Linked DNA regions of Homo sapiens. The protein of the gene in region 1 interacts with the protein of each later gene in a biochemical or structural test. Each region holds a gene or a part of one and is shown on either strand. Other genes may lie near its edges.

Region 1 (3,915 bases):
AACTCTCAAAAGATTTCTTTATATATATTCCTTTCTTTCTGAAGGACAGGAAATTTACGTAGGAAATGTTTAGGAGCCCACAGCTATGAAACAACTCTACCATTTATTGACAGTCTTACTTGGTGAAAGTTGAGAAGGGAACTAATAAGGAGGTAGCTATCTTGGTTTTAATCATTACTCCCACATTTACGTGATAGGATGAAGTTGTTTTGCATCGTAGGTACTACAATGTTCTTCATTTTTCATATGTGAATTACTTTTTTAATAGACGGTGGATTCAAGCCAGTTATAATTACGGCACCAGTAAGTGCAAAGGTTGCAGACGGAGACTTTGTTACTCTGTCCTGCAATGCCAGTGGGCTGCCGGTTCCGGTCATTCGTTGGTATGACAGCCATGGATTGATAACCAGCCATCCATCTCAAGTCCTGAGATCGAAATCCCGAAAATCACAGTTATCAAGACCTGAGGGCTTGAACCTGGAGCCTGTGTACTTCGTCCTGTCCCAAGCTGGTGCAAGCTCTCTCCATATTCAGGCTGTGACTCAGGAACATGCGGGGAAATACATCTGCGAAGCTGCAAATGAACATGGTACCACACAGGCAGAAGCATCTCTCATGGTTGGTGAGTTGCCATTATTATTTATTTTTAGTTGAGTAATTTCCTTTTATAATAGAAGATAAAGTGATTTGAAATATGTTATTTTAATGAATCCAGCAATCTCTCTATATTTTTTCCTGATGACAGTGAAATGTAGAACTGTATTTCTTGGTATTTCACTTTATGTGAATCACATGAATTTTGGTCTCTGTTTCTGATGTGTTTGTTAAGATTGTAGGTGCAATACAGAAAGCTCTCATTTGGGAGCAGGCCCAGAATATAACCTGTCTTTGAGATGAATGCTTTTGGTTTTCTAAGCTACCGAAAATGATATTGCAGACATTTTTTATGCCCTTGATAACTACAGTATTGGGTCTAAAGGACTGGCCTTCATTGAGAATGTAGAGTTGTGGTACTATTAAGTAATACCTGTATGTATATATTCCCTGTGTCTTATCCAAAGTTATTTTCTAATGGGATGTATAATATTAATTCTTCATATTTTACTGATTTTTTGTGATGATGACTTAAAAACTATATATGATTTTTGATGTACTGGTATATAGACTATTAATATTCATGGAAATGGACTCAAACTTGACTTAATTCAAATTCAGACCTTCCATCAGTAGGCATTTAGGGCAGCTTTCCCCAACAGCTAGTCAGTTGGGTGTAGATTGTCATCTTATTTGTCTTGTGAGAGGCCCAACATCAAAGGCAGTACTGCCTTTAGTTTTGGGTAACTGAGGTCTCTGACCCTGGCCTCTGCTTTAAGGGGCTTAGCGTGGCTCTCTTCTGCCTGGGGCCATGGTCCCACAGGTTAAAGAGCCCATAGGGTCGAGGAGCAGTGCTTATGCTGAGCTCAGAGCCCACATTCCTCCTTCTAGACAGGTCTGGGGCTCCAGCATTTCCTGCTTCAGTGAGTTCACAGTCTGGTCCCCACAGTTCCTCTCCCCTGGCCCATCCGCCACAGTCTGGACCACACGACCAGTGTGTGGGCACCCTTAGCCAGAGCAGTGGTCAACGGGGGGTCCTTGGCAGAGGAGTGATGGTTGAAATAAAAAAGAGTTCGTATGTGCACATACGATTTCCCTTCACGTGCAAACAAGGACGCCCTTGCTCTGAATGAAGCTGGAGGCGGAGGAGAAGTGGTGGAGACCAGGGACTTCCCCTTATCCTCTTGTGCATGTTAGAGGTGGGAGAGATGTGGAGGCTGAGCACGTGGGCTGTGTCAGAATCCTGGCTCTGCCACTTAGCAGCTTTGTAACCCAAGGGCAAATCACTGCACTTCTCTGTTCTGTTTCCTCATCTGTGTAACAGGTATAGTGAAGGTGCCCCACTCATAGGGTTGATGTGAGAATCCAAGGAGTTAATGCGTAGTAAGTGCTTAGAATGGTGTCTGGCAATAGAAAGCCCTCCATTGATACTAAGTATAAAGTTATGATTGTTACTGTCTAATTATTATTAAATTACAGTGATCTCTTGTGGCAGTGTTAAGGGAAGGAAGAAATAGTTACTGATTTTAGAAACATTAAGAATCCTTAAATGAAGAAAGTAGTTCAGTGTTACATAAATTTGCACCTATAAATGAATGTGCGTGTGTGTTTATATTTCTATTCCTCTAGGCAAAAATAAGAGTGGCTCTGCTCGAAATTGTTAACTGCATGACAGGTGTAGTTGCAGGAGCTCCTTGGGTAGAATTTAGCTGAAGCGATTATGTGAATACAGGGTGTAGAGAGACAGATGTCATAGTTTTATGGCTGATGAAACTAGATATTTTGTCGAACTTCCTCACCTTAAATATGAGAAATCGGAAGCCCTTTGAAGTTATGTGAACTAACTTTAGAAGATCTTTAAGATTCCCCTGTGCTCCAGGATTTTATGTCTCGATAAATACTACTTTTATGTATGGTAACCCCATCAGCTGTATTCTACCAAAGAGGTCCTACGTTGTCTTTTTTTAATTTTCTAGTATAATTATTAAGATCCAACCGAGTTTATTAAAACTCAAAACAATACATGACAACTCACTTCTTTGCATAGGAATCTGAGCCTTATGAAATTCTAGCATCCTGACAAGTCATTTGACTACTGTACTGTAAAGGGGAGAGCAAGCTAGGTTAGAGAGAGAGATAACTCTCTCCCCAGCCTTTTGTTTTTTCCAGAGACTTTGGGTTTTTGAGGTCCTGGATGTACAAATATTTGTAGAGTGTGTGGTACTCTTTAAAACTATAATGAGAGTTGGTGCGGGTTTCCTAAATAGTTTGGGTTGTGAGTTGCTGGCAGCAGTGGTCACAGTGGGAGCATCTTTGACAGATATGGTTGTACTCCCTCCCTGTTTAATTAGTTTCCACTTAGAGTCATTAAATTTATTTACATTGCCGTAGTTGCATCAATCTCTTTTCCGATTCAAAAAACATTCTACCTTAAAAGATGCTAGATGCCTGTTCTACCCATTTCATAGAGTTCTGAAGATAAGTTGAGATAATACATGCAAAAACACCGGGGAAGTACTGGTAAGGTCTTTTCAGTTGTATTGAGTGTATCTCCCAAGTGCCCAGATTATATCATTGAAACAGAAGAAGAAAGTTAATTGAATCCCCCTTTTAATAAAAGTTCTGGAGAGGTCTCATTGCATCTTAAGTCTTACAGAAATGGAATTTTGATACTCAGACAGTGGAGAAGCTGCAGCATTAACGTTTTTCTCATGCTTCTGTATGAGGCATGTGGCATTTAAACTCTTTTACAGCCAGATCCCACTTCCCAGTGGAAAACTGCCCGGAGGATCCACTAAACTTCTAATGATAAAAAGGTCCTTCTCCACTACCTCAAGCCACAGTTAATTATCTCCACTTGCCGAGTCCTTCTGTCTGCATTAGCAGGCACCAGATCACACCCTGAACATCAGTCCGCAGTCTGACTCACTAGATAAACACTGCTGTTCCAGGAGCAATATTTTGAAGTTGTCTCAGTGAACTTAATTAGTTTTCTTCTACATTATTTCCTCACTAGCTTCTTGTTTTCTCTGATGGAGGATGCTTCTGGGACACCCTTTCTCTCTTTTAAACTAACAGAGAACTAACCTTACACTGTCAGTCCTGTTTTCTGTTGGTTCTCTACTGCAGTGCAGCCCTTCTCCCAAAAACACACCCATCTTTTACCAGGAATCTGACTTCATTTTGGACATAAAAGTAGTACGTTGTTTGCTCTGCACTCTTCCTCCACAAAAGGAGTGAAAAATAGAATTTTCTGTTGCCAGTATTAATAGCACTTTAGAGAAACCAAGCCGTCACTCCTTAGGTTTTATTGTGCTGGCA
Region 2 (3,915 bases), on another chromosome or scaffold:
GCGGAGGGAGGGGAGCCGGTGCCTGGGGCGGGGGCCAGGCTCAAACAGGGGCTCTCCGGGAGCAACCAGGCCCTCCCTGACCACGCTTCCATTCGCCCTCCTAACTCTGTCCTTCTCCCAGGTTGAGCCGCTGTCCCTGAACCAATAGGGGTGAGGGACGGGCATTAAAAATGGGGAAGGAGCTAGGTATGGGCACCCCCTCTCAACCTCAGAGGTGAGCCCACAGTTCTCCAACGACGTCCTGGGAACAGAGTGCAGATTGGTGACTACCATCGACTCAGATTCTCATTTCTCCAGGACACTCAAAAGCTGGGAGGGGTAAGAGTAGGGCCGGAATAACAAAGAATCAACCCTCCTATCCAGGTCCCTTTTGCCCCAAGGGTGGTGGTGGGGAGACTGACTCCTTTATTCCCCGCCAGCGTTGTAAGGAGCGGGTGAACGCTTTGGCCATTGCCGTGATGAACATGTGGCCCGGAGTGCGCCTACGAGTGACTGAGGGCTGGGACGAGGACGGCCACCACGCTCAGGATTCACTCCACTACGAAGGCCGTGCTTTGGACATCACTACGTCTGACCGCGACCGCAACAAGTATGGGTTGCTGGCGCGCCTCGCAGTGGAAGCCGGCTTCGACTGGGTCTACTACGAGTCCCGCAACCACGTCCACGTGTCGGTCAAAGCTGGTACAGTAGGAGGAGGGTGGTAAAATCCGCCCAAAGGGGGCTCCCTCCGGGAAACTGAGTCTGCAGTAGTACTGTTGCCACCCTAGGGGAGACCAAGCGGGCTTTAGTGTTGAAAACCACCCGTCCAGGCCGAGGCGGTGCCTCACGCCTCTAATCCCAGCACTTTGGGAGGCCAAGGAGGGCGGATCACTTGAGGTCAGGAGTTCGAGATCAGCCTAGCCAACATGGTGAAATCCCGTCTCTATTATAAATACGAAAATTAGTTGGGCGTGGTGGTGTATGCCTGTAATCCCGGCTACTCGTGAGGCTGAGGCACGAGAATCACTTGAACCCGGGAGGTAGAAGTTGCAGTGAGCCGAGATGGTGCCACTGCACTCCATCTACTGGGCGACAGAGCGAGATTCTATCTCAAAATACATACATACATACATACATACATACATACATACATACATACATAGAAAAGAGAAGAAAAAGGAAAAGAAAAGAAAGAAAAACCGCCCTTCCTTTTCTGCCCAGGTTGGGGCCAGTCAGATTAACGGAAAATTGTGTTGTCCATGACTGGCGATATCTGCGCTGGCCTTGAGAATCGTTCTGGAACCGCTGGTCTTGATTCAATCCTCCCTGTGGTTGTTCCCTGCAGATAACTCACTGGCGGTCCGGGCGGGCGGCTGCTTTCCGGGAAATGCAACTGTGCGCCTGTGGAGCGGCGAGCGGAAAGGGCTGCGGGAACTGCACCGCGGAGACTGGGTTTTGGCGGCCGATGCGTCAGGCCGGGTGGTGCCCACGCCGGTGCTGCTCTTCCTGGACCGGGACTTGCAGCGCCGGGCTTCATTTGTGGCTGTGGAGACCGAGTGGCCTCCACGCAAACTGTTGCTCACGCCCTGGCACCTGGTGTTTGCCGCTCGAGGGCCGGCGCCCGCGCCAGGCGACTTTGCACCGGTGTTCGCGCGCCGGCTACGCGCTGGGGACTCGGTGCTGGCGCCCGGCGGGGATGCGCTTCGGCCAGCGCGCGTGGCCCGTGTGGCGCGGGAGGAAGCCGTGGGCGTGTTCGCGCCGCTCACCGCGCACGGGACGCTGCTGGTGAACGATGTCCTGGCCTCTTGCTACGCGGTTCTGGAGAGTCACCAGTGGGCGCACCGCGCTTTTGCCCCCTTGAGACTGCTGCACGCGCTAGGGGCGCTGCTCCCCGGCGGGGCCGTCCAGCCGACTGGCATGCATTGGTACTCTCGGCTCCTCTACCGCTTAGCGGAGGAGCTACTGGGCTGAGCGTCCCAGGCATAGAAACCTCGAAGCGCCCGAGGAAACGAGGGCCTGCTGGCTGAGATATGGGGCTGTGGGCAGCAGACGATGCCGACTGGAAGGGAGGGAGAGGGAGGGGGAGGGAGAAAATGGGGCTATGCCTGGCTTAGGGGCAACCTCGTACTGAGAGGAGGTGATACCGGGTCCTAGGTAGGTAGGGCTGATGGTGCGCACTCCTTAAAGAGGACTATTTAGCCTCTCCCCCAGTGCTTCAGCCCCACCCGATAATTTTATTTTATTTCTTATTTATAAATTGTAATATAATGATTCCCTTGCCCAGCTTGCCAAGGTGAGGGGCTGGGGCATGGCATTAACACTGTCTGACACAGCCAGCCAGTCTGACATCTGACGTTTTCCTGCAAGGTGGGCTAATAAAGGGAAGGCTTTCAGGAGCTTACTGGAAAACACTTCCATTCAGAGGGTGATTCACCTCCAGAGAGGGGGATAAAGGTGGCCAACCTGAGTTAACAGCTTACTTCCGGCTCCCCCTCCTTCCTCAGCAGGGTCTTTGGGACCCTTTTCCTCCCTTCAGAAGGGGCATCCCAACCCATAAGCAACAGAGCCCACAAGAGTCGTACCCTTTTCCAGGCTGCTGTTTCCGTCTCCCATCCAGAGAGGACCAGCATTTCGCTCCTGCGGCTGAAGGGTCCAGGGTTGTCCCAGGTGGGAAAGACTGTGCACACCTCTTCTCTGTTTATAGGGGCTCCAGCAGGGGCTCAGGCCCCTATGAGTACTGATACTCAAAGCATCTAGTCCCCTATTGTTAGCCAGTAGTCCTGGTCCCCATCCTACCTTGGTGGCAGGGCCTGGATGGGGTGGATGTTTTTTCTGATATGCCACTGGGCCAACTGATGATCCATGGGAAACCTGGGTAATAATTTGCAATCGTCGCATAGTCATGGCCTGAAAAAGGAAGGGGGGCACAGTAAGAGGCTGGAATATTTCCTTACTGAAGGGCTGCTCAGAGAGAGAGAATGGATTCAGCCTGGGTGTATGTGGGGGAAGTAGATTCCCTAAACAAGGGCATATCAGCATTACAACCCGAGCTCCCCTCCTGATCGCTGGCCCTGATTGTTGTTTCTACTGGCTTGGTCTTCAGCGCCTCCTCCTCCCTCTCCCATTATCACCAGCTCTACTTCCCTAGCCTGGGTGTTTTTGGAACCTTTAGGTTCCAACGCAGTAGACACCTGGAATCCAGGCAGGCAGGTGCCCCTGAGTTAGGAATGGAAGCTCTGGAGGAAGCTGGGCTGCTCCAGAAGGGAAGTGTCTTGGGTGGAGGTGAGGCGGGGAGGAGGAAATAGTCGGGGGTTGTTGGTACCACCCGGAGCTCGCCCTTGCCAGTAGCCGCTGTGCGCTCCCATCGCACAGGGTCCCTGCTATACACCGCCCTCTGGTGGCCTTCAAGAGAATTCTAGGCCTATGCATATGGTTCTCTGAAACGGAAGGCAAGCGGTCTCAGACATGGAAGGGTGTACTGGACCTGCGCAAAGGAGCCCGCTCCCAGGAGGGAGAGATGATGGGTGGGCCTTGTTAAGCTGCCAGCGCTGAGTCACACATATCAGGAGCTGTCAAGGAGTCCACCTGCTTCTCCTTGGGCAAGTCGTTCCAAACCATGGCACTTTTACATCACTCCTGCCTAGTTTAGCTCTGTGGTTCCTGGAAGCTGCAGATGCCCTACTAGTATACCTGTAGTAGCCCAGACTTCCTTATGTATCAAAGTTGCCGCCTCATGTCCCTCACCCTCATGACCCTTGAGTTCAATTGTCAAGGAGGTGAAAGCATAATAGGGTTCCAGGTAGTGCTTGATAAAGGCAATATTTGGAAGCAGGTCAAGTTTACCTTTGGTGTCCTTCCACCCACTGCTGCCCTCAACCCACACTGAGGCTCTGTTGCCACCTTTGTTTTTCCGGGTCTCAGAAACACATCCCAAGC

What was found.
Region 2: the proteins of CDON (region 1) and DHH are reported together in a solved structure, tested with the Homo sapiens proteins (one study listed by IntAct).

Annotation. Positions count from the first base shown.
Region 1 is NC_000011.10:126,007,048-126,010,962, reverse strand, and holds part of CDON (cell adhesion molecule-related/down-regulated by oncogenes isoform 2 precursor), read left to right. Parts: intron 1-268; coding exon 269-622; intron 623-3,915. UniProt on the Homo sapiens protein: Component of a cell-surface receptor complex that mediates cell-cell interactions between muscle precursor cells. Promotes differentiation of myogenic cells.
Region 2 is NC_000012.12:49,087,894-49,091,808, reverse strand, and holds part of DHH (desert hedgehog protein preproprotein), read left to right. Parts: exon of another isoform or gene 1-318; intron 319-419; coding exon 420-681; intron 682-1,324; coding exon 1,325-1,950; 3' UTR 1,951-3,915.